Linked DNA regions of Homo sapiens. The protein of the gene in region 5 interacts with the protein of the main gene of each other region in a pairwise test. Each region holds a gene or a part of one and is shown on either strand. Other genes may lie near its edges.

Region 1 (3,500 bases), on a different chromosome or scaffold from region 5:
AACAGAGAAAGACCCTGTCTCTAAGAAAAATTTAAAAAATTGAAATGTAAGAACAGTCATGAAGCCAGATTGCCCAGGTTTTGCCCCTTACTACTGTGTGATTTTTGGCTGATTAACCTGATTATTATTTTCCCCATCTAAAAGCGAAGATGATGACAATAGTGTCTGCCCCATAAACTATCATGAAGATTACATAAGTTCACATACTTATGTGCTTATAAATAGTACCTGGTACTAAAAGTATAAAATAAATGTTATCTATTATTATCTTTTTTTTTTTTTTGGAGGCAAGGTCTCAGTCTATCTTCCAGGCTGGAGTGCAGTGGCATGATCACAGCTCACTGCAGCCCCAACCTCCTGGGCTCAAGCGATCCTCCTACCTCTCAGCCTCCTGAGTAGCTGGGACCACAGGTATGCACCACCATGCCTGGCTAATTTATTAAATCTTTTGTAGAGACGGGGGTCTCCCTGTGTTGCCCAGGCTGGTCTTGAACTCCTGGGCTCAAGCAATCCTCCCACCTCGGCCTCTCAAAGTGTTGAGATTATAGGCATGAGCCACATGCCCAGCCCAATTATCATTATTATTACAAGATCTTTATTACAAGGCTGAGATACAGACGCTAGCTGGCTGAACTTCTGGCTCCTGTTTACCAACTTTCTAGCCCACTCAATTCAGACCCTTGCTAGCTCTTTTCATCATCCTATGAGGCGTGAATTATTTGCCCTGTTGCAAATTCTTACAGTGCTGTCTGAAAAAGAGATATGCTAGTGTAATCTAGAAACTGGAAGAGCACTGTAGAGACAAATAATTCGGGATTTTAATGACTCTCTTGCAGGGAGAAAGGCAATTGAACAGGATGACTCACAAGGTTTATACTGAAAAAGCTTAGAGCTTTTTCTAAGCGCTTAGATTATTTTTTAGTGACCAGCTCTATAAAAGCAGTGATCAGAGCCCATGCTAGCTAGACCTAAAAAGTAATAGTTGTAACACAGATGTATTTAAACTGTGATAAAAAAATTAGACTATACACATGAAATTGGTTTGAATTACCTCGGCTTTAGAGAGCTGCCTGTCATTGTCCATGTCTATTTGTTTAAATGTCTCAATGCTCCGTGGTCCTTTGGTCACAGCATAAAGTTCAATCTCAAAAATCAATGTAGCATCCGGTGGAATCTTGCCTTCTGCTAAGGGTATAAATTTTAACAGTTTAACTTATGTAAAGATATAGTTCAAATATCTATTCATGAACTGCCATAACCATATTATATTATTTCATGTTGATAAGAATTGCTATCTGAATACTCACAATTTTTAATTTTTTCTCATCTTTTATAACTTTTTTCGGCTTTTCAATAGTTTTCTTTTTTGTTTTTTTTTCTCTTTTTTTTATAAATACTTTTTTAGGAATATTTTTTCCATATGTTTCCAAACCAAGTCAATTCAAAGGACCTATGGGACCACTATTTCTTGATTAATTTAAGTAAAAATCATAAACTTTTTATTAATGCATGGATATGACCCTCTATATCTGTGGGTTCTGCATCTGTGGATTCAACCAGTCTCGGCTTGAAAATATTCATACAAAAAAAGGATAGTTGTGTCTGTAATAAACATGTACAGACTTTTGTCTTGTCATTATTCCCTAACCAATACAATATAACAATCTTTTACATAACATTTACATTGTATTAGATATTATAAGTAATCTAGAGATAATTTAAAGTACACCGGAAGATGTCCAGAGGTTATGTGCAAATGTGATGCCATTTTGTATCAGGGGCTTGAGCTTCTGTGGATTTTGGAATCCATGAGAAGGTCTTGGAACCAATCTCTAACAGGTACTGAGAGACAACTGTACTCTCCTATCATCAACACAGAAGAGAGGTGGCACAGAGAAGAAATGCATGGGCAGAAAAATTGCAAAGCATAGATGAGTCATCTTTTAGAAAGTGATTTTGTGTAGTTATTTGGAAGCATAAATAAAACATAAGTATTAATATATTTGTCTTTCAAATTTTTTATAGACATTAAAAAATAAGTGCAATGATAGAAAAATCCAGTAACAGGCTGGGCACAGTGGCTCACACGTGTAATTCTAGCACTCTGGGAGACCGAGACAGGAGGATCACTTGAGCCCAGGAGTTTGAGACCAAACTGGGCAACATAGTGAGACCCTGTCTCTATTAAAAAAAAAAAGAATTAAAATAAAAATTCAGTAACAATTTTACAAAGAAATTGTATACATTTTTAAGCAATAAGTTGAATACCTATTTTTATTTTTATTTATTTTTTTTGAGACGGCGTCTCACTCTGTTTCCCAGGCTGGAGTGCAGTGGTGCAATCTCCGCTTACTGCAGCCTCTGCCTCTTGGGTTCAAGCCATTCTCCTACCTCAGCCTCCTGAGTACCTGGGATTACAGGTGCACACCAGGCATTGCATTATTAGTAGAGATGGGGTTTCACTATGTTGGCCAGGCTAGTCTTGAACTCCTGACCTCAGGTGATCCGCTTGCCTTGGCCTCCCTAAGTGCTAGGATTACAGATGTGAGCCACTGTGCCTGGCCAGAATTGCTCTCTTTAATTAAGTTAACCTATTAGCTGATGTCACAGATTTTTTTTTTTTTTTTAGACAAGAATCTTCCTCTGTCACCCAGGCTGGAGTGCAATGGCACGATCTCGGCTCACTGTAACCTCTGCCTCCCAGGTTCAAGCAATTCTCCTGCCTCAGCCTCCCGAGCAGCTGGGATTACAGGTGCCTGCCACCAATCCTGGCTAATTTTTTATACTTTATTAATAGAGATGGGGTTTCACCATGTTGGCCAGGCTGGTCTCAAACTCCTGACCTCAAAGGATCCACCCACCTTGGCCTCCCAAAGTGCTGGGATTACAGGCGTGAGTCACCGTGCCAGGCCATGATGTCACAGGTGATTTTAATAAGTGATGGGCTATTTCAGATAAATATGTCATAAAAGTGACTTGCAAAAATGACTTGCTAAGGGGCAGCGGGTAGCTTGTGTCATCAGTATATTGCCAGTGTCCTACACAGTGCCTAATCTACTACAGGCAGTCCAATATTTGCCGAATGAATGACCCATATCATTTATTTTTAAAATGTTTGTCCTTGGAAGGAAACAGCAATTTCTTTAATAAAAAAGTGAAGCATTCTAGCTAAAGTCTTTATATAGTCTGAAGAGAAAAGAGTTTGTGAGTTATAGCCAAAAGGAGTAGCAGATTAGTAGTTTTCAAAGAGAAAACATAGAAAGATCTACCCATGCATCATATGACTAACATAAAAGTCCTAACCTAATGCACCACATATTACCTGACTTTAGAGTAGAAGAGCTAGAGATTGAGTCAATGATTGTTTTATAAAACCCATTCCTATTTTTTCCAGTTATCTCCTTATGACAGAATTATTGTCTCCTGACAATAATTCAAGGCAAACTCAAAACACAAATTCAAATTTCTTTTCTTTTCGTTTTTTTTTTTTTTTGAGACAG
Region 2 (3,405 bases), on a different chromosome or scaffold from region 5:
AAAGCAAAAGCAGTTCAACATGATAAATGTTTGATAAATGTTGTGGGTTTAGCACAGGGATTCTTAACCAGGAAACCAGTTCTGGGAAGGAATACCAGATTCACCTATAGACCATTTTCACAGTTTACTATTCTGCTTTTCTTTCCACCCTTCTTCTGCTGATTTTTTCTCTGATACATTTCTAATCTAGACATTGTTTTCTGAATGACAGCAATAGCTTTTGATACCTATTTTTTGATACCTATTATTTGATACCTATTATTAGGGAAAAGGAATTTTCCTCTCTAATTTCCCAAATGGATGGCTAATACATTTTAGTTACAATAAAACTCAAACTAGAGATTTACTTAGACTGGAGTGAGCATATGGATGAAATGGGATGTAATGTTGAACTTGAAGCATGTAGAGGTTTACTGAGACAGCTTCACTTAGAAAGGGAAGGACAACAGGGACAAAGTCACAAAAGAGAAGCAGCCAGAACAGAACTACATTATGGAGAACACGGAAAACTAGGCCCTTAGGACAAAGGTGACAAATTAAAGACCTCAGACAACCATCACGTATTTCAGCAGCTACTATTCTTGTGAAAGTAGGTTCTAGGGTGACTGTCAATAGATTTGGGGCTACTTCAATGATCCAAGATACAAGAATCTAGCCTGCACCGTTAAAATGAAGGGACTGGAAGTAAGAAACACATAAAGGCAAATACAATGGGAATTGATGACTAATAGCATAGGAAAGTCCCTGAACTTTGCTTTGTAAAGCTGTTAAAACCAAGGGTTTTCTAATGTGGATCACAAGGATTCTATCATCCTCAGGGATGATATGGGTGGGTAGAGGCAGCTTTATGAAAAGAGAATGAGCATCATTCAAGGCCCTCTTCCTCCACTTCAACTAGAGCACTTACACTTTTATCTTCTAGATTTATTGGGGTTTTAGGTAAGAATTGATTAAATAAAACCTTTATTTCTTTTATAAGCAAGTGTTAAAGTCATGAATCTACACTATAAACCTTTCAAAGCTAAAACCATGACTCCTTTTTGTTGTAATCCCACCTTCAGCCTAATTCATTGCAGGCACTCAATAAATTTTGACAAATCCTACCAGAGACTTGGGAAACTTACAATAGGTCTTGAAATCATTTGTCTTGTACCCCTCAAAACTCACTCTAGACATGTATTATCTAACATGATAGCCACTAGGCACATGTGATTATTAAAATTAAATAACACTAAAAATTCAAGTTCCTTAGTCATACTAGTTATCTTTCTCTCCCCCGACCAGAGTCTTGGTCTGTCGCTCAGACTGCTCTGCTCACTGCAACCTCCGCCTCCTGAGTAGGTAGCACTACAGGCACAAGCCACCAGGCCTGGCCAATTCTTTATTCTGTTTTTTTTCCTTTTTCAGAGACAAGGTTTTGCTATGTTGACCAGGCTGGTCTCAAACTCTTGGCCTCAAGCAGTCCTCCCACCTCGGCCTACCAATGTGCTGGGATTACAGGCATGAGCTATGATTCCTTGGCCTAGTTAATTTTCAACTGCTCAATAGCCACATGAAGCCAGTGGCCACCATTTTGGACAGCACTTACATGAAATATTCCTGTCATTATAGAAAGTTCTACTAGACAGTGCTGCTCCAGACAGATTTCAATGACTATATGAGTACTGGGTTATTTATAGGCTACCTGGGGAACATAATAAAACATTAGGGTCACTAACTTGCCATATACTTATATTAAATATCACAATATTTCAGAAACTAATTTGGACTTCTGACATCTTAACAATGATCTCTAACAACAAAAATAATATATTATTTCCTCAAATTATCTACACAAAATGACAAATTCACTCCAGTATACGAATTAAAGATGATTTAAAAAATTTAATAAATACCCCAAGGAATATATTTCATCTGCCTATCATCTACTGCAATGGCTGGCATATTTGCCTCCCTTTCTCACCTGCACTTTCCTTAATGGCAGGAACTGCAACTTATTCACCCCATCCTCAACACCCAGCAAAATTACTTGATAAATGGTAGGCCCACAGTAACTATTCATTCAATAGAAATAAATTGCAAGCAGCTATTGAATACTAAAGAACAAAACTGGAAATCTCCTTTACCATCTCTGAAAGTTATCAGAAGCAAAAAACACAACTCTTTTTGCAAAGTAGACACTGCTGTGCAAAGCCAAGCAGTCCTACTGGCTTGCTATGATCTTACATGAACATCAACCTCTTCGTGCTACAGTTTAATCATCCACAACACTGGGGGTGATCATGGCACTTTGCTTACAAGGTTATTGTACAGATAAATAGCTATTACATATTTAATGCCAATGGCTAGCATTGAAGAAAACTATTGTTGCCTGAGGAGTTTCTTGGAGGCCTTGACAGTGGAGCGGAAGTGCTGGTGAATGGTACTCATTGAATATGAATACTTACTGAGGCTGCTACGTTTATGTTATACTGGTTATCACTCAGGAGTGGCTGCCCGGTTATGGTTGTATTGCAATGCAAATCATGCAGGGATGTGGCTGCTGCTTCCAATAAAAAGGCTCCAAAATAGAAGACAAATACTGTAAAATGGTAGGCAAAATCCTAAAAGAGGAGAGAAAAGACATCTGCAATTAAAAAAAAATATTTTTCTGTTCCTTATTTTAAATAATGAAGTTTAGGTTTAGCAAGATCAAAACATTTAATTAAACAATCTTAACTATATTCACTGTTAAGCTTAGCTGCTTTAGAAATGTTAGACTATCAGAACCCAAGCGAAAATCAACTGACCCATCTTAATTGGCACATTGGTAAACCTTTCCATATACTGAATTTTATAATATGTAATTTTATTTTTTTATTATTATACTTTAAGTTTTAGGGTACATGTGCACAATGTGCAGGTTAGTTACATATGTATACATGTGCCATGCTAGTGTGCTGCACTCATTAACTCATCATTTAGCATTAGGTATATCTCCTAATGCTATCCCTCCCCACAACAGTCCCCAGAGTGTGATGTTCCCCTTCCTGTGTCCATGTGTTCTCATTGTTCAATTCCCACCTATGAGTGAGAATATGTGGTGTTTGGTTTTTTGTTCTTGCGATAGTTTACTGAGAATGATGATTTCCAATTTCATCCATGTCCCTACAAAGGCCATGAACTCATCATTTTTTATGGCTGCATAGTATTCCATGGTGTATATGTGCCACATTTTCTTAATCCAGTCTATCATTGTTGGACATTTGGGTTGGTTCCAAGTCTTTGCTACTGTGAATAATGCCGCAATAAACATACATGTGCATGTGTCTTTATAGCAGCATGATCTGTAGTCCTTTGGGACCCAGTAATGGGATGGCTGGGTCAAATGGTATTTCTAGTTCTAGATCCCTGAGGAATCGCCAC
Region 3 (3,500 bases), on a different chromosome or scaffold from region 5:
GCAGATTACTTGAGCCCAGGAGCAACATGGTGAGACTCTGTCTCTGTAGAAAATACAAAAATTAGCCAGGTGTGGTGGCACACACCTGTAGTCCCAGCTACTTGAAAGGCTGAGGTGAGAGAATCACTTGAGTCCAAGAGATGGAGGTTGCAGGGAGCCGAGATCACACCACTGCACTCCAGCCTGGGGGTCAGAGCAAGACGCTGTCTCAAAAACTAATAATTTAATGTGAACTGTGTTTCAACATAGTGTCGTTTATCCTAAGTGTTATTGTTAACATCTAGGTTTCACTCCTTTTACTTCCAAATAATGCTGCAGTGATCAACTTTGTTTAAAGACCTCCTGCTCCTTCCTTCCTTTGAATTATCTCCACAAAATAAATTTCCAAGCATAGTATCAAAAAACACAGATATTTTCAATTTTAATCAGTGTTACCAATTTGCTTTTCCCTCAGTTCTTTGGTTTCCCTGAAGCTCCAGCGGTCTTTATTTTTAAGACATGCTTTGTAAAATTTCTTTTTTTTTTAATTGTAACGATAATCTTCACCTGGAAAAATTGCTAATAGTTACACATTAGTACCTATTACTTTAATTTTTACTCTTTTTAATTTCCTTTTATTGCCCATTTAGCATTTAGTTATTGGATCCCGATACTAGTACATTTTTATATGTGTTACAAACATTTTATGCATTCTTTATCCTTTTTTGTTAGTGTTATGAATTTGTATTGTATTAAGTTTTTATACTTTTAGAGTTAAATCCATCTGTTGATGCCTTTGCATTTTATTTTTCTTCTTTTTTGTAGATCTTGTTGCATACCAATGCTTTTGTATTTTAATTGTTAATATTCCATTACCTGTCAGCTCTTCTGATTTGGTTCATTAAAAATACATGTAACTCTTCTATCTGAAATTGATTTGTTATGAGGCAAATTATAAATCTAAATCATCCTCAGTAGTTCTGTCGAGTTTGCCCAGTTCCATATCTATGTATTTATCTTGCAGAAGTAGAAAGATGTGTGCACAAGGATATTCATAGCAGTACAGTGTAAAATAGCAAAAAAAAAATGGAGGTAGGTTACAAATAGATAATGGTTGAATAAATTAGAAAATACTATGAAATACTATGTAGCCATTAAAGGAAAAAGGAGATCTATGTTTATATCCTAGAAAGATAAAGACACTATTTAGTGAAAAAAGCAAATTTTGGTATAATAGGTATAGGATAAACGTGTTTGTATACATGCATGTAAATGCATAGAAAAGGGTCGGGTGGTTGGGGAGGAGGGAGAAATTTCACTAGGTATTCTGCATGTTTCCATTTTGCTGGATTTCTAGAGAAGAATATGAAGTATAAGCCCAGATGCAAGATGTTTTCCTTTAAAGGCAAAGAACCTAAGAACAGCCTTTGACTAGATTAACTCTTGAAGATAGAGGTGTGACAGCCAAATTTTTGTTTTACCATTAATTTAATGCCATGGTATATACATATTTTAAATCATATTTATCACATGTGTTTTTTCATTCGCATTTTTTGACTCGCATTTAGATGCTTCACGTGCCTTTTAATGTTGGTGTCTTCATGGGAGGCACATTTGAACTAACCTAGCAATTTCCAGAGCACAGCATCTGTACTCCCTTCTAACCTGTTTGAGACACAGCATTTTTAATTTAATTTTTTCATAGGTAATCCATTCACGTGGTTCAAAAGTTTTTAAAAAGGACCGGGCACAGTGGCTCATGCCAATAATTCCAGCATTTTGGGAGGCCAAGATGGGTGGATCACGAGGTCAGGAGTTCAAGACCAGCCTGGCCAACATGGTGAAACCCCATCTCTACTAAAAATACAAAAATTAGCCAGGTGTGGTGCCGCACACCTGTAATCCCAGCTACTTGGGAGGCTGAGGCAGGAGAATTGTTTGAACCTGGGAGACAGAGGTTGCAGTGAGCTAATGTCGCACCATTGCACTCCAGCCTCGGTGACAGAGCGAGACTCCTTCAGGAAAAAAAAAATATATATATATATACATATATAAAATGTTACACAAAGAAAAATCTATCCCACCCCTTCCCTTTATGCCTGGTTTCCAGTGCTCCTCAGCCCCGACTGGTAGCTTGTTATTGTCTCTTTATGCATATACGAGAAAGTACAAATACACAATCTTAATTTTCCTCCTTTTTAAAATATAAAAGGCAGATGCTATACCCACTGTTCTGCAGCTTGCATTTTCTTTTTTTGCCTGATGAATATATCATGGTGATTTTTCCATATCAGTATATTAAATGTCTTCATTCTTTTCTACAGCTGCAGAATAATCCATTGCATAATTGTACCATCATTTATTTAGAGTTACAGCACATTTTAAATTCCACTGGGAATTTGACCCTGAGCCAAACGTACCTAGCTGCATTACAGTAGCATTTAATGGATATCTGGTATTTATACACTATTCTAAGTGCTTTAATCCTGCATTATCTCAGCTCATTTAATTGCCCAGCAGTCTTAAGAAGTAGGCATGATTGTTATCCCAATTTTACAGTTGAGAAAAGAAAGGCATAGAGGAAGAAATAAGTTGCCCGTATCATTCTGAAGTTAACTTTCTTAGGTAAAATTGTGACCACATTAATTTCGAAATGTTAGTTGTTTAGCATAGGTGAAGTCAGCAAACTTTTTCAGTAAAGGGCCTGGCAGAAAATAGGCTTTGCCAGTTGCCGCAGCCACTCAACTCTTCTAGTATGAAAGCAGTCACAGACATTACGTAATGAATGACATTACATAAATGAATGAGCATGGCTGGGTGCCAATAAAACTTTATTTACAAAAGCAGGTAGCTGGCCAGATTTGCTAGTCCCTGCAACAAGTAATTCAGCAGCACCTTAGTCTTGAAGTGCCCTATGAAAGCATCTAGGCCCGTGGCTGTGCGGCAGCCGGCCCACAGGCGTCTTCTTGTTGCATTTTTTTTTTTGCCAACAGGGCCCAGGATTTCAGCTCTTTAACTGACTTCTTTATACCTGCTCCCACCTGTTATTTTGTTCCTGTTTCTGTTATCCTTATCCATGAGTCATTGGGTAGGAGGGTAGTTTAACATGCTCTGCCTTCTCTGTCCTTGAAAATAAATGCACATATTCTCTATACTGTTGCCTATAAGAAATTAAAAACAATACATGTGAAGATAGAGTCCAGAATTCAGGTGCCTTTTTTTTTCCTTTTTTTTTTTTTTTTTTTTTTTTGAGACAGAGTTAAGACTCTGTCGCCCAGGCTGGAGTCCACTGGTGCAATCTTATCTCACTGCAACCTCCGCCTCCTGGGTTCAAGTAATTCTCGTGCCTCAGCCTCCCTTGTAGCTGGGGTTGCAAGCGTGCAATACCATGCCCAGCTAATTTTTTTTTTCTCTTGTACTTTTTAGTAGAGAGGGGCTTTCACCATGTTGGCCAGGCTGGTCTCAAATTCCTGACCTCAAATGATCTGCCTGCCTTAGCCTCCCAAAGTCCTAGCATTACA
Region 4 (3,500 bases), on a different chromosome or scaffold from region 5:
GGTTCACTAGGCCAGGAGTGAAATGGATGTGGGACAGGCAATCACCATGTTCACTCCAGCCCATAGGTTATGATGGCTTGAGGAGTGAGCCATCTGTTTGGTATTTCCTCTTAGCTCTAAACCTAAAAAGATGGCGGGTGTGAAGTTGCCCTTGTCTTTAGGAAAATTAAGCAAATTGACATTTTTGCATTTTTGTCATTTGCAAGTAAAATTCAGGGGAATTACCACCAAATGTGTGGTGATTTCTGGATTGGGTTGCATGTATCAGTCAGTTGGGCGAGGAAGAAAGGAAAAGGTTAGGAAGAGGAGCTATGCTGTAAGCACATGGTGCATGATTTGGTCCTTAATGGTGTGTCACAGACTTACAACAACTAAAAAGGAGAGGGTGGCTGGAACATTTCCTGAAAGGTAATCAGTAAGTTAATAAAGGGAATTTTTCAAAGTCAGTTTTGTTTTCCCCATGCCATTTTTTAAATGAACAAATACTGCCATATACTCCTTTAAAATGAAGCCTCCTAAATGAGATTCTTTAAAGTGAAAATGTGTGTATGTTAGTATAAAATCAGAGGGGAAAAATACAGAATCTAAGAAGAGCATTAAACATTCTTGTATCTTGAGATTATTTTTACCTTATGTAGGATTTTGAAGTGGTTTGTTATAGGTGGGGATCCTGAGGCCTTGTTTAAGTGTTTTACTAGAAACAAGGAAATGCTATAGCTATTGAGGAGAGAGATTTTTGGTTTTGCTTTGTTGTTTATTCCCCTGCAGTTTAACCAATTGCATAACGTAAGATGTAGTTTTCTACATCTTAGGTAGATTAGTTATATGCCTCAGGTTAGGTATATAACTTTTTTCCTGCCCATTTATTCCTGTATCCTGTTTACTAATAAAGTAATTCATGGAATAGATGGAAATTTCAAAGAATGGAGAATGGTATTAAGTACACAGTTGGATCCCCTCCCCATTCTTTACTCTGAGTGAATGTAGTTGCTTATTTTTAATTATTTGGGTAGTTAGCACTAATTATACATTACATACTTATATCTTGATTTGTGAACTTTACAAGGTATCTCCTGACTTGTTCATATGAGGCAGTGTATCATGGGTGGTTAAGAACACAGGTCTTAATTCAGACAGCTTGGCTTCTAATCCTCTGCTGCTTCTAACCTACATGGCCTTGAGCAAATTATTAAGCTATTCTTTTTTTTTTTTAATTTTTTTTTTTTATTATACTTTAAGTTTTAGGGTACATGTGCACATTGTGCAGGTTAGTTACATATGTATACATGTGCCATGCTGGTGCGCTGCACCCACTAACGTGTCATCTAGCATTAGGTATATCTCCCAATGCTATCCCTCCCCCCTCCCCCGACCCCACCACAGTCCCCAGAGTGTGATATTCCCCTTCCTGTGTCCATGTGATCTCATTGTTCAATTCCCACCTATGAGTGAGAATATGCGGTGTTTGGTTTTTTGTTCTTGCGATAGTTTACTGAGAATGATGGTTTCCAATTTCATCCATGTCCCTACAAAGGACATGAACTCATCATTTTTTATGGCTGCATAGTATTCCATGGTGTATATGTGCCACATTTTCTTAATCCAGTCTATGATTGTTGGACATTTGGGTTGGTTCCAAGTCTTTGCTATTGTGAATAATGCCGCAATAAACATACGTGTGCATGTGTCTTTATAGCAGCATGATTTATAGTCATTTGGGTATATACCCAGTAATGGGATGGCTGGGTCAAATGGTATTTCTAGTTCTAGATCCCTGAGGAATCGCCACACTGACTTCCACAATGGTTGAACTAGTTTACAGTCCCACCAACAGTGTAAAAGTGTTCCTATTTCTCCACATCCTCTCCAGCACCTGTTGTTTCCTGACTTTTTAATGATTGCCATTCTAACTGGTGTGAGATGATATCTCATAGTGGTTTTGATTTGCATTTCTCTGATGGCCAGTGATGATGAGCATTTTTTCATGTGTTTTTTGGCTTATTAAGCTATTCTTTGCCTCAGTTTCCTTGTCTCTAAAATGGACATAATAACAGGACTTACCACATGTGATAATTTGAACATTGAATTTAAAGATTCATGTAAACTGTTTACAAGAGTATCCAGCACATAAGTGATCACAATAAATGTTGGCTGTTTCTGCTACTGCTGTTTTTTAATTTTTCTTTCTTTTAAGCACAGGGTCTCACTCTGTTGCCCAGGCTAGAGTGCGGTGGCACAGTCATTGTTCACTGTAACCTCTAACTCCTGGGCTCAAGCAATCCTCATATATATACACATATATATGTATGTGTATATATGTATGTATATATGTATGTAGATATATGTCTATATATATAATGTATATATATGTGTGTCTATATATATATATATATTTTTTTTTTTTTTCTTTTAAAGTTTTTGAGACAAAGTCTTGTTCTGTTGTCCAGGCTGGAGTGCAGTGGCACAATCTCAGCGTACTGCAACCTCTGCCTCCTGGGTTCAAGCAATTCTCGTGCTTCAGCCTCCTGAGTAGCTGAGATTACAGGTGTGTACCACCACACCCAGCTAAATTTTTGTATTTTTAGTAGAGACAGGGTTTCACCATGTTGCCCAGACTAGTCTCGAACTCTTGAGCTCAAACGATCCCGATCTGTCCACCTCTGCCTCCCAAAGTGCTAGGATTACAGGCGTGAGCCACTGTGCCCAGCCCAGTTTTAATTTATATTTATTTATTTATTTGTTAGAGACAAGGTCTTGCTCTGTTGCTCTGGCTGGAGTTCCATGGTGTGATCATAGCTCACTACAACCTGGAGCTCCTGGGTTCAGTGATCTTCCCAGCTCAGCCTTCCGTGTAGCTAGGACTACAGGCATATGCCACCACGCTTGGCTAACTTTAAAAAAAAATTCTTGTAGAGATGGGGGTCTTGCTATGTTTCCCAGGTTGGTCTTGAACTCCTGGCCTCAAGCAGTTCTTCTGCTTCAGCCTCCCGAAGTGTTGGAATTACAGGCATGAGCCACTGCACCTGATCTACTACTGTTAACATAATGAAAGATGAGGCCTCTGCTTCATTCTCCTTCCACAATTTGTAAAATTAATTTTATTTCTATATATAACATTAAATAATGTATCTAGTCCTTTTATTTCCCCAACAGCATAATATATCTTAACTTCCTGCTCTAAGTGATGAAGAAAGCCCTACTCATTCTTATTTATTTATTTGTTATTATTTTTTTGAGATGGAGTCTCATTCTGTCGCCCAGCCTGGAGTGCAGTGGCGCGATCTTGGCTCACTGCAACCTCTGCCTCCTGGGTTCAAGCAGTTCTCTCCCTCAGCCTTCCGAGTAGTTGGGATTACAGGCGCCTGCCACCACACTCAGCTAATTTTTGTATTTTTAGTAGAGATGGGGTTTCAGCATGTTGGCCAGGCTGGTCTTGAACTCCTGACCTTGTGATCCATCTGCCTCGGCCTCCCAAAGTGCTGGGATTACAGGTGTGAGCC
Region 5 (2,441 bases):
GATCATGAGGTCAGGAGATCAAGACCATCCTGGCTAACACGGTGAAACACCATCTCTACTAAAAATACAAAAAATTAGCTGGGTGTGGTGGTTCGTGCCTGTAGTCCCAGCTACTCGGGAGGCGGAGGTAGGAGAATCGCTTGAACCCGGGAGGTGGAGGTGGTAGTGAGCCGAGATTGTGCCACTGCACTCCAGCCTGAGTGACAGAGTGACGTGTCAAAAAAAAAAAAGAGATGAGGTCTTGGCCGGGAGCGGTTGTTAAGAGATGGGGTCTTGGCCAGGCACGGTGGCTCACGCCTATAATCCTAGAACTTTGGGAGGCTGAGGCAGGTGGATCACCTGAGGTCAGGAGTTCGAGACCAACCTGGCCAAAATGGTGAAACCCTGTCTCTACTAAAAATACAAAAATTACCTGGGCATGGTGGCGGGCACTTGTAATCCCAGCTGCTCGGGAGGCTGAGGCAGAAGAGTTGCTTGAATCCAGGAGGCGGAGGTTGCAGTGAGCCGAGATCACAGCGTTGCACTCCAGCCTGGGCAATAAGAGTGAAACTCTATCTCAAAAAAAAAAAAAAGAGAGAGAGAGAGAGAGAGAGATGGGGTCTTGCTGTGTTGCCCAGCCTGGAGTCCAGTGGCACAATCACAGCTCAGTATAGCCTCCGAATTCCTGGGCTCAAGCCATCCTCCCACCTCAGCCTCCTGAGTAGTTGGAGATACAGGTGCACACCATCTCACCTAATTTTTTTCTTTCTTTTTTCTTTTTCTTTTTTTTTTTGTAGAGATGAGGTCTCACTTTGTTGCCCAGGCTGGTCTCAAACTCCTGGCTTCAAGAAGTCCTCCTGCCTTAGCCTCCCAAAATGCTGGGATTACAGGCGTGAGCCACCTCACCTGGTCCTGGATCTCTTTTCTGTATATGTTCATTTCTTGTTGGTCTCATCTAGTCTCATGGCTTTAAATACTATCTGAATTCAAATTCCCGCCCAAGTGTATACTCCAGCCTGGACCTTGGTTCTGAATTCCAGATTCACTCATCTAGTTGCCTACTGCACAGTTGTTGTTATTGTTGTTGTTGTTTTGCTGTCAGGCGGGCATTTCAAACCTAACATTTCTAAAACTGAGCGCTTGTTCCTTCTGGAGCAACTCCATCCCTTTGGTTGTTTAGGTCAAAAACCTTGGCATCATCCTTAACTAAAGTTATTTCCGTATTATCACCATTTCTGCCTGTTTCCACTGCTACCACTCTGGCCCAAGCAAGTCACCATCATCTGTTGACCGTTATTGCAGAAACTTCCCACCTGGCCTCCTTTCTTCTGCTCTTGGCTCTCAGCACAGCAGGCAGAGTGATTCTGTTGAAGTCATACCATGTTACTTCTCTGCTCAAAACCTTTCAAAGCCTCTGTACCGCTCAGATTCAAAGGCAGAGTCCTTCCAGTAGCCCTGGAGACCATACCTCATGTGGCTCTTGTTCCTTCTTCTGTCTTGACGCCTCTCTTCCCACTGGCCACCTTACTGTTCTCAAACATGCCAGGGAGGCACCTGCCTCTGTGCTTGCTGATCTCTCTGCCTAGAATGTTCTTGCCCCAGATGTCTGCACGGTGCTCCTCCTTCTCCTTCAGGTCTGCACTCAAATGTCACCTCAGTGAGTCCATCCCCACCTGCCCTTCCACAAGGCTGGGATTTTGGTCTGTTTTGTTTTGTTCAGTGCCCTGTCCTCAGTGCCTAGAACAGAGCCCATGCTAGGTGCTTAATAACTATTGACTAATTGACTGGATCAGCAGATAAATGAATGTATGGGCAAGGCTGGGCTCTTCCTTGGCCAGGGCTCTGATGGATAATTTTTTTTTTTTTTTTTGAGATGGGGGTCTCACTCTGTCACCCAAGCAGGAGTGCAGTGGCGCAATCTTAGCTCGCTGCAATGTCTGCCTCCTGGTCTCAAGAGATCCTCGTGTCTCCTGAGTAGCTGGGATTACAGGCTGATTTTTGTATTTTTAGTAGAGACAGAGTTTCACCATGATGCTCAGGCTAGTCTTTTTTTTTTTTTTGAGACAGAGTGGAGTCTCGCTTTGTTGCCCAGGCTGGAGGCAGTGGTGTGCTCTCAGCTCACTGCAACCTCCGCCTCCCGGGTTCAAGCGATTCTCCTCCCTCAGACTCCCAAATAGCTGGGACTACAGGCATGTGCCACCACACCCAGCTAATTTTTTGTGTGTTTTTAGTAGAGACGGAGTTTCACCATGTTAGCCAGGGTGGTCTCAAACTCCTGACCTCAGGTGATCCGCCCGCCTCGGCCTCCCAAAGTGCTGGGATTACAGGCGTGAGCTACTGCGCCTGGTTTTTTGTTTTTTTTTTTAATTTGAGATGGAGTTTCACTCTTGCTGCCCAGGCTGGAGTACAATGGCGCAATCTCGGTTGACTGCAGCCTCTGCCTCCCGAGTTCAAGCGATTCT
Region 6 (3,934 bases), on a different chromosome or scaffold from region 5:
TAATGCCATTCTGTCATGGCTGGAAGCAGAAATATATTTGTTTTTATTAATATAAAACAAATTAATATAAAGCACTCCCTGTTTCTCTTCTTTTATCCTTATGCAGTCTATCTTGATGATCTTATCCACTCTTAAGAGTTTCAATACTCTTTCTGTTTCCTTACTTTAACTTTTGTTTTTTTTAGACGGAGTTTCACTCTTGTTGCCCAGGCTAGATAGAGTACAATGGTGCAGTCTCGGCTCGCTGCAACCTCCGCCTCCCGGTTTCAAGCCATTCTCCTGCCTCAGCCTCCTGAGCAGCTGAGATTACAGCCCCCACCACCACACCCAGCTAATTTTTTTGTATTTTTAGTAGAGACGGGGTTTCACCATGTTGGCCAGGCTGGTCTTGAATTCCTGACCTCAGGTGATCCACCCTCCTTGGCCTCCCAAAGTGCTGGGATTACAGGCGTGAGCCACCACACCTGGCCTACTCTAACTTTTTATTAACTTTTCACCTACTAAAAACAAATTACTAAGATGTTAGAATGTATTTGTTTACTTTGCTCTTCTTTTTAGTTATCTTTGCATGAAGTATAATAATAAAAAAAATAAGACAACAAAGAGAAAAAATATAATGGAATTTCTGATACTGTGAAGGGTAAAGACCATCACACAATTTGGACAAGGTTTTGGGGAAGATGTGGTCATGTCATATTCACAAAATATATCTGGGTAATAGTCTATTTCTCCCGTGATTCCAGGCATATGCACCCAACAGTCCATTTCGTTATTGCTTATCACTGCCCAAAAGTTCCAAGAAATGATGAAGTCAGTCTCATTTGGCATACATCTACTTTTTCAGAAGGAAACAAAGCAGAGAAAAAATTCCGAGAGAAATTCATAGCTAGTAACCACTCTCACTTTTATTTTAGTTTCCATAACTGAAATTGCTGGACTTGAGAGCAATTTTTCCTTGCTCAACAGAATTAGGTGAGATGGGGAATCAATTTAATATATATTTAGTGAGCATCTACAGTGTCATGGGGCAAAAAAATAGCAACTTACAATATTAATTTCTATAGGCAGCCCCCAAATTTGAATCATTTCCTGAAAAATTACTTCTGCTTTTGTGAAGTTTCCTGCTAGCAGTTTAGAGATTGGGCTGTTTCCTCACTGATACATATCCCTTCACACTTCTATAATTTAACTCTCTCAACTGCATGTGAAAGATCTTAGCTGAAGATGACTGACAGTGTTATTTATTCCATGTTAGAGTTGCCTACGGCAACCCAAGCCCAGAATGACTATGGACCACAGCAAAAATGTGAGTTAACCAAGGTAGCATGGAAGACGATGCATAGCAACAGTAGGCTATGGATGAATGGGGAGTAGAATAAGTTTAAAGCAGAGGGTGCAGAAGAATTGAGGATAATTTGAGGAAATACTTTTGGTTCAGTTTAAAGTCCAGAGTTGGAATATGAAAAGTTGGTGTATGGTACAGGATCTGATCTTAGGTCTCAGGTAAACTCTTTTCTAACTGTTCACTTCTTTGATCGCATCTTAGAAACCCAACTTAGGGCATTGCCGTTATTCCTTCTTGCTCTTAGCTAAAGCGGGAACTTTGTTGGGAGAATTTTATCTCTTTAGTTATATTCGGAGTAACCTTGGACCAGCTGTTTAAATTCTAGGTATGGCTGTTTTTCTGACTATGGAATGAGGAGGACACCAATAGTTTTGCTGGTGGATACGAGTAAGATTTTTGTCAGGAAAGAAACTGATTTACATATCTAGTTTTGTTTTTTTTTTTTAACTTCACAGTGTTGCACTAGAATGGTGACAGGGAAGAAAAAGTATCAAGAAACTACAGATAATAGTCTCTGTGACTGAGGATTTGAAGGCAAAAGAGCCATTTTTACATAGAGCCCTGAGAGAATATTATCTGAGACAGACAGGTAATAGTGTAAATGCCAAAATTAATCCTTGATTTTGTATCGTAGGCAGTGAACTCCCACAAGGTGTATTCTTTAGGGTAGTTCCCTAAGCTTTCTCTCTTTTTACTACATAGTTTTACTATTATAATTTTTAATGTCTTTTGAGAGTGTTGCCTTAATTTGCTAAATCATTCTAGTATACTTGGGATATTTAGACCTATTTCTATTACCATAAATTATATAGCATTGGATATCTTTATTTGTGTAACCTTTTCCTATTTTTGAATTGTATCTATGTTAATTTCTAAGGAATAGAAATATTACGTTAGAAGTAATGCATATCTCAAAGTATATGTTCAAGGTCACACACACAACTGGTGATAAATTGGAACCTAGTTGGAACTATTTAGAGGCTTTCAATATATACTTAAAGTAAATTTTAAAAATTTACTTTACTTCTTGAATTGGCTTGTGGTTACACAAATTCAATTATGGTTTGATACCTTTTTAAAATTTAGCATAACATAAAAATGAACATTTGTGTATTTCATTAAATGTTCTCCTGTGATGCAAATGTATTTTTAAAAGTTTTTCTAGAAATCTTAATGCTTTTGGATTCATCAGTCCAAATATTTATTATGCAGAATTCTCTATTTATGAAGGCATCTCTCATTATGAATTTTTTTCTTTAAGAAGTTCAGAATACTCCATAGATACACACATATATAGAATAATTTATCTAAAATTTAATCAGAAAATTGAAGCCCAAATAGGCAAGTTTAATTTCCTAATTAAATGTTATTAAGCAAAGGAATCAAAATTAGAAGTTAAATATCATCTTACTTCACAGAGTTTTGCTCGTTACACGTAATTTCTACACTATTGCACTATGAGATACCTTTGATTTTAAAATAAAGATTTGCTGAAAATACTTCCATTTTTCAAATTTAAAATTTAGATTTCGGTTGTATGCAACACAGCTAACATGAAGTAGTGTCCTATTCTTAAACTTGGCATCAACTTAAACTTACTGCTCTTTTAATAACGACAGTTTACAAAGCACTTCTGAAATGTAGATTATTTTTATTTAAATTTTATGTATTTCAATTTCGAGTAGATAATATGTTTACATGGTTCAAAATTCAAAAGGTACAAAAGAAAATAGGGTAAAAAGTCTTTTTCCTATTTTGTCTCCAGTGACTGTTTTTTCCATTCCAGAGGCAAACAATGTTATCAGATTCTTGAGTGTGCTTGCAGAGATATTTGTATATCCTGTTCTGCAGAATGTTTCTTTGTCTTGACTATATATCTTACAAAATATTCCATATCAGTTAAAAAAAAAGCCAGTTTTTATTAGAAGCTATATATTCACTTTATGGATATATCAAAAATGTATTTGACTGGCCTTTTACTGATAGAATGTAGATTGTATTCAGTCTTCTCCTCCTACAAATATTGCTGCCACGAATAAATATGACATTTTGCACCCGCGAGTATCTGTAGGAAAAATTTCTTAAGGAGAAATTTCTAGGTCAAAGGGTACATGCCTTTGCCGTTTTGGTAGATATTGCCCAATTGTCCTCCAAAGAGGTACCAATTTGTATTCTCACCACCTAAGTATGAGACAGTGTAAGTCACAGTTTCAAAGGAAAAAAGCATTCTTTATCTTGATAAATATAGTAAGTTCTTTGATACAGGTGTTGGTGGTTACCTTAGACTTTAGAGCAAGTTCCTGACACATCTAGAAAAGGAATCTTTATGGCCTGGATCTCAGTTCCCACTAGGCCAAATTGCTTTAAGATGCGATATCCTTCCCTGACTTTCTCTTTTCTTTCAACCTGTCATCTGACTCAGGATTGTGCTTTGACTCTGTTGTTGCAGCTTCCTCTTCCAGGCCTTCTTGTTCTTGCCTTGTGGCAATAGCTTTGGGGCTTCTGACTGCAGTTCTTCTGAGTGTGCTGCTATACCAGTGGATCCTGTGCCAGGGTAAGTGCAAACTTAAACCAAAATTAATCTTTCAT
Region 7 (3,354 bases), about 15 Mb from region 5:
CTGCCAGGACAGGCTGGGCGGACGGGACCTTCGCGTCTGTGCACACTGAGGGCTGTGCTTCTCGTTAGCCATGAAAGGAAGCTAGTTCCTGTCAGGCACATTCGGAGCTTCAGGTACATGGGCCACATTGACCCTTGTGTTGCCTGGTACAGTGTTCCAGAGCCTCCCAGTTGGAAGGGCATGGACTCCAGCAGGGGAGCAGTGACCAGCAGGTCCCTGGAGCCTTGTGTCCTTTAGTCAGATGGGTCCGACCATCCTGGGGACCAGGGTGTGCTGAGGGAAGGGGCAGCTTTTCCCTGAGGCATGTGACAGAACATGGCTCTGTGCAGCCTTGGGAGCCATGAGTTGGAAAACTTGATCCAGCCTCAAGAGCTATGTCTAGCAGTGTCCCCGTCAAGGCCCAGATAAAGACTTCTTGCAGATGAGCAGATAACGGAAAACTAGGATGTGGGGTGACGGTGCGGAGATTCAGAGAGATCTGTCTCAGCTGAAACCAGCCAAGGAAAGATGACAAGGCATGGATAGCCCTGTCTTCAGGCCTGCCCGCCACAGGTGAAGAAGATTCTGCTTTGGGTGGGAAATTTGTACCGCAGAGGCCTGAAACCAAGAAAAGCAAGACTGCCTGAAATGCAGCTTGGCCCACGGTCACTGCTGGGGCTGCAGCCGGGCTGCCGTCTGGCCTTGCTGCAGAGCTGAGCGTTCCGTGTGGTGGATTACTCTCCTGCTGGTTGGGGTCATGACATGCATCCCCAGTCCCGGGGGGGAAAGCCCCTTGTGTGGTCTCCGTGGCAGTGTTTCTTATGCAAATGAGTGGCATTTGCCGGTGGTGCAGGGGCCTGGGCCTACAGGGCCAGAATTGGTGGCATTGCTGGGCTGGATGTTTTGAAGCCCCTCAGTTGACCCTCCTGCTTACTAAATTTGGAGCCCACTACTGTTCTTGAAGCGTTGTCTTTTCCTAATTCAAGGAAAGGGTCGCTTTTCCTATGCAGTGGGCTAGTGTCCTGGGTCTCCTCTTCTCCCCTCCGCAGCGGGGAGGAGCTGGGGGCTGCTGCCGGCCCAGGAAGGGCACCCAGGGCTTGTGCAGCCTGGCCTCCAGGAGAGCCAAAGGAGTTTGGATTTCATTCGCCCAAGGCAAAGCTCTTCCTTTCTGCCTCTGTTCTGCAGGCCCAGGATGACTACTTAGGAAACGTGCGGAGGGCAAGGGCTTAGCATTATCTGTCCTGAGGTCTGTGGTTTCCAGTGAAGAATCCTCTTGCAGTTGCCCTGATTAACTAAGAATGGCTTTCAGGCTGTTGGCCCTCTGCTGCCGTGTGTGCTCCTGTGATTCTGTGCCGAATCGTTCTTTCCCCTTTAGGCTCCTTTGCTGACTCAGATCAGTTGGTCCACAGCCTTAGGCTAACCACCAGGCCTGTGTTTGTCATGTTAAACGTCGAGGCACTGCTTTTCCTGCCTTTTTATATCTTTTTTTTTTTTTTTTTTCTGAGACTGAGTCTCGCCCTGTCACCCAGGCTGGAGTGCAATGGCACGATCTCGGCTCACTGCAAGCTCCGCCTCCCAGGTTCAAGTGATTCTCCTGCCTCAGCCTCCCGAGTAGATTACAGGGATTATAGGCATGCGCCACCACACCTGGCTAATTTTTTTTTGTATCTTTAGTAGAGACAGGGTTTCACCATGTTGGCCAGGCTGGTCTCTAACTCCTGACCTCATGATCCGCCCCCCCGGCCTCCCAAAGTGCTAGGATTACAGGTGTGAGCCACCACACCCAGCTTTATTTCACTATTTTCAGGAAAAATCCTTTTTACTGATTATCTTGTGTTGGGATTTAAAGGAGATGAGGACCCAAGTGAGATGTGCTCTCCGCAGTGCAGGCTCAGACCTCCCCCAGCGCTGAAACACAGTTAAGTGCTCCTCAGCCTAATCATCCTGTCTCTCTCTCTCTCTCCCTTTCCTGCCCCCTCCATCAAAAGGGTGAGCTTGTCGGCCACAGACTGCTACATTGTGCATGAGATCTACAATGGGGAGAATGCCCAAGACCAGTTTGAGTACGAGCTGGAGCAGGCCCTGGAAGCCCAGTACAAGTACATTGTGATTGAGCCCACTCGCATTGGCGACGAGACAGCCCGCTGGATCACCGTGGGCAACTGCCTGCACAAGACGGCCGTGCTGGCGGGCACCGCCTGCCTCTTCACCCCGTTGGCGCTGCCCTTAGATTATTCCCACTACATTTCCCTGCCCGCTGGTGTGCTGAGCCTGGCCTGCTGCACCCTCTATGGGATCTCCTGGCAGTTTGACCCTTGCTGCAAGTACCAAGTGGAGTACGACGCCTATAAACTGTCGCGCCTGCCTCTGCACACACTCACCTCCTCCACCCCGGTGGTGCTGGTCCGGAAGGACGACCTGCACAGAAAGAGACTGCACAACACGATAGCACTGGCCGCCCTGGTGTACTGTGTAAAGAAGATTTACGAACTCTATGCCGTATGATTTCAGTAGAACAGGGAGCGAAGCAAAACCACCCGGCCCACAAGAGACAACAGAGTATTCAGATCGCCACACTCTGTGAGGCAGCAGAGCCTGGGCAGGTGTTTGGCTTAGTATTTGTTATTTTTAAAAAATAACAGATCACGGGTGTACCCAGGGTTTTTCAGCTCATTACACTAAGATGTGGATTTCCATAACCCAAGAGGGGGGTCTGAGGCTGTGGAAGTCCGACTGGGCAGTGGAATGCTGATGGAGGCAGACGCTGCCGAGGGGGTGTGGACGTGCTTTGGGGGAGGTCTTTAAGTCTATTGTTTAACTGTACCATCCAGAGCCCACCAGAAGCTATTGATCATTAAAATTATGAGAATTTCAACTCCCGCTGTTCTCTCTTTCCATGACTGCCCGCAGCTGCTGCTGCACATCTGCTCTGGGTGGCGGCTTGCACATGGAAGGAGCAGGTGCCATGGTAGCCACCCTGCCCTGCTCCTAGCTGCGGCCCAGTGTTACCACTTACAGCGACGACAAGCCTAGATCCAAGGTAGTCCTGGGGCCAAACCCCGCCCAGGAGCAGTCTCCTGGCTCACCTTGGCCTCATCATTCCGAAGGCCATCACTGCCACCATGCTGTTCAGGAACATGGTAGGATAAGGTGACGAGGCTTGGAGGCCTTTGGGTGTCCACTTGAGTTCACGTGGGGAACTCTGGGCTCCAGGATCGCTCTTCAGAGATCTGAACACCTGTGTTTTCTTTGAAGCACCAAAACTCTTCCTACTGTGGACCATGAGTTTATTAACCCATTGCCCTAGGCTGACAGAAGAGCCCTCGGAGCAATCTTGGAAGCACCCCCTGGCCTCAGTGCTCGCTGTTCCACAGG

The links.
Region 1: the proteins of MRM1 (region 5) and FKBP7 interact in binary tests that used the Homo sapiens proteins (3 or more experiments, as listed by UniProt).
Region 2: the proteins of MRM1 (region 5) and MAL2 interact in binary tests that used the Homo sapiens proteins (3 or more experiments, as listed by UniProt).
Region 3: the proteins of MRM1 (region 5) and VKORC1L1 interact in binary tests that used the Homo sapiens proteins (3 or more experiments, as listed by UniProt).
Region 4: the proteins of MRM1 (region 5) and NXPE3 interact in binary tests that used the Homo sapiens proteins (3 or more experiments, as listed by UniProt).
Region 6: the proteins of MRM1 (region 5) and KLRG1 interact in binary tests that used the Homo sapiens proteins (3 or more experiments, as listed by UniProt).
Region 7: the proteins of MRM1 (region 5) and TMEM11 interact in binary tests that used the Homo sapiens proteins (3 or more experiments, as listed by UniProt).

The regions. Positions count from the first base shown.
Region 1 is NC_000002.12:178,468,601-178,472,100, forward strand, and holds part of FKBP7 (peptidyl-prolyl cis-trans isomerase FKBP7 isoform a precursor), read right to left. Parts: intron 2,925-3,500; exon of another isoform or gene 2,837-2,924; intron 1,186-2,836; coding exon 1,052-1,185; intron 1-1,051. UniProt on the Homo sapiens protein: PPIases accelerate the folding of proteins during protein synthesis.
Region 2 is NC_000008.11:119,239,363-119,242,767, reverse strand, and holds part of MAL2 (protein MAL2), read right to left. Parts: intron 2,604-3,405; coding exon 2,448-2,603; intron 1-2,447. UniProt on the Homo sapiens protein: Member of the machinery of polarized transport. Required for the indirect transcytotic route at the step of the egress of the transcytosing cargo from perinuclear endosomes in order for it to travel to the apical surface via a raft-dependent pathway.
Region 3 is NC_000007.14:65,949,574-65,953,073, forward strand, and holds part of VKORC1L1 (vitamin K epoxide reductase complex subunit 1-like protein 1), read left to right. Parts: intron 1-3,500. UniProt on the Homo sapiens protein: Involved in vitamin K metabolism. Can reduce inactive vitamin K 2,3-epoxide to active vitamin K, and may contribute to vitamin K-mediated protection against oxidative stress.
Region 4 is NC_000003.12:101,796,211-101,799,710, forward strand, and holds part of NXPE3 (NXPE family member 3 isoform 1 precursor), read left to right. Parts: intron 1-3,500.
Region 5 is NC_000017.11:36,604,583-36,607,023, forward strand, and holds part of MRM1 (rRNA methyltransferase 1, mitochondrial precursor), read left to right. Parts: intron 1-2,441. UniProt on the Homo sapiens protein: S-adenosyl-L-methionine-dependent 2'-O-ribose methyltransferase that catalyzes the formation of 2'-O-methylguanosine at position 1145 (Gm1145) in the 16S mitochondrial large subunit ribosomal RNA (mtLSU rRNA), a universally conserved modification in the peptidyl transferase domain of the mtLSU rRNA.
Region 6 is NC_000012.12:8,988,412-8,992,345, forward strand, and holds the start of KLRG1 (killer cell lectin-like receptor subfamily G member 1), read left to right. Parts: upstream 1-1,134; 5' UTR 1,135-1,224; coding exon 1,225-1,306; intron 1,307-1,800; exon of another isoform or gene 1,801-1,934; intron 1,935-3,794; coding exon 3,795-3,899; intron 3,900-3,934. UniProt on the Homo sapiens protein: Plays an inhibitory role on natural killer (NK) cells and T-cell functions upon binding to their non-MHC ligands.
Region 7 is NC_000017.11:21,197,454-21,200,807, reverse strand, and holds the end of TMEM11 (transmembrane protein 11, mitochondrial), read left to right. Parts: intron 1-1,967; coding exon 1,968-2,484; 3' UTR 2,485-2,854; downstream 2,855-3,354. UniProt on the Homo sapiens protein: Plays a role in mitochondrial morphogenesis.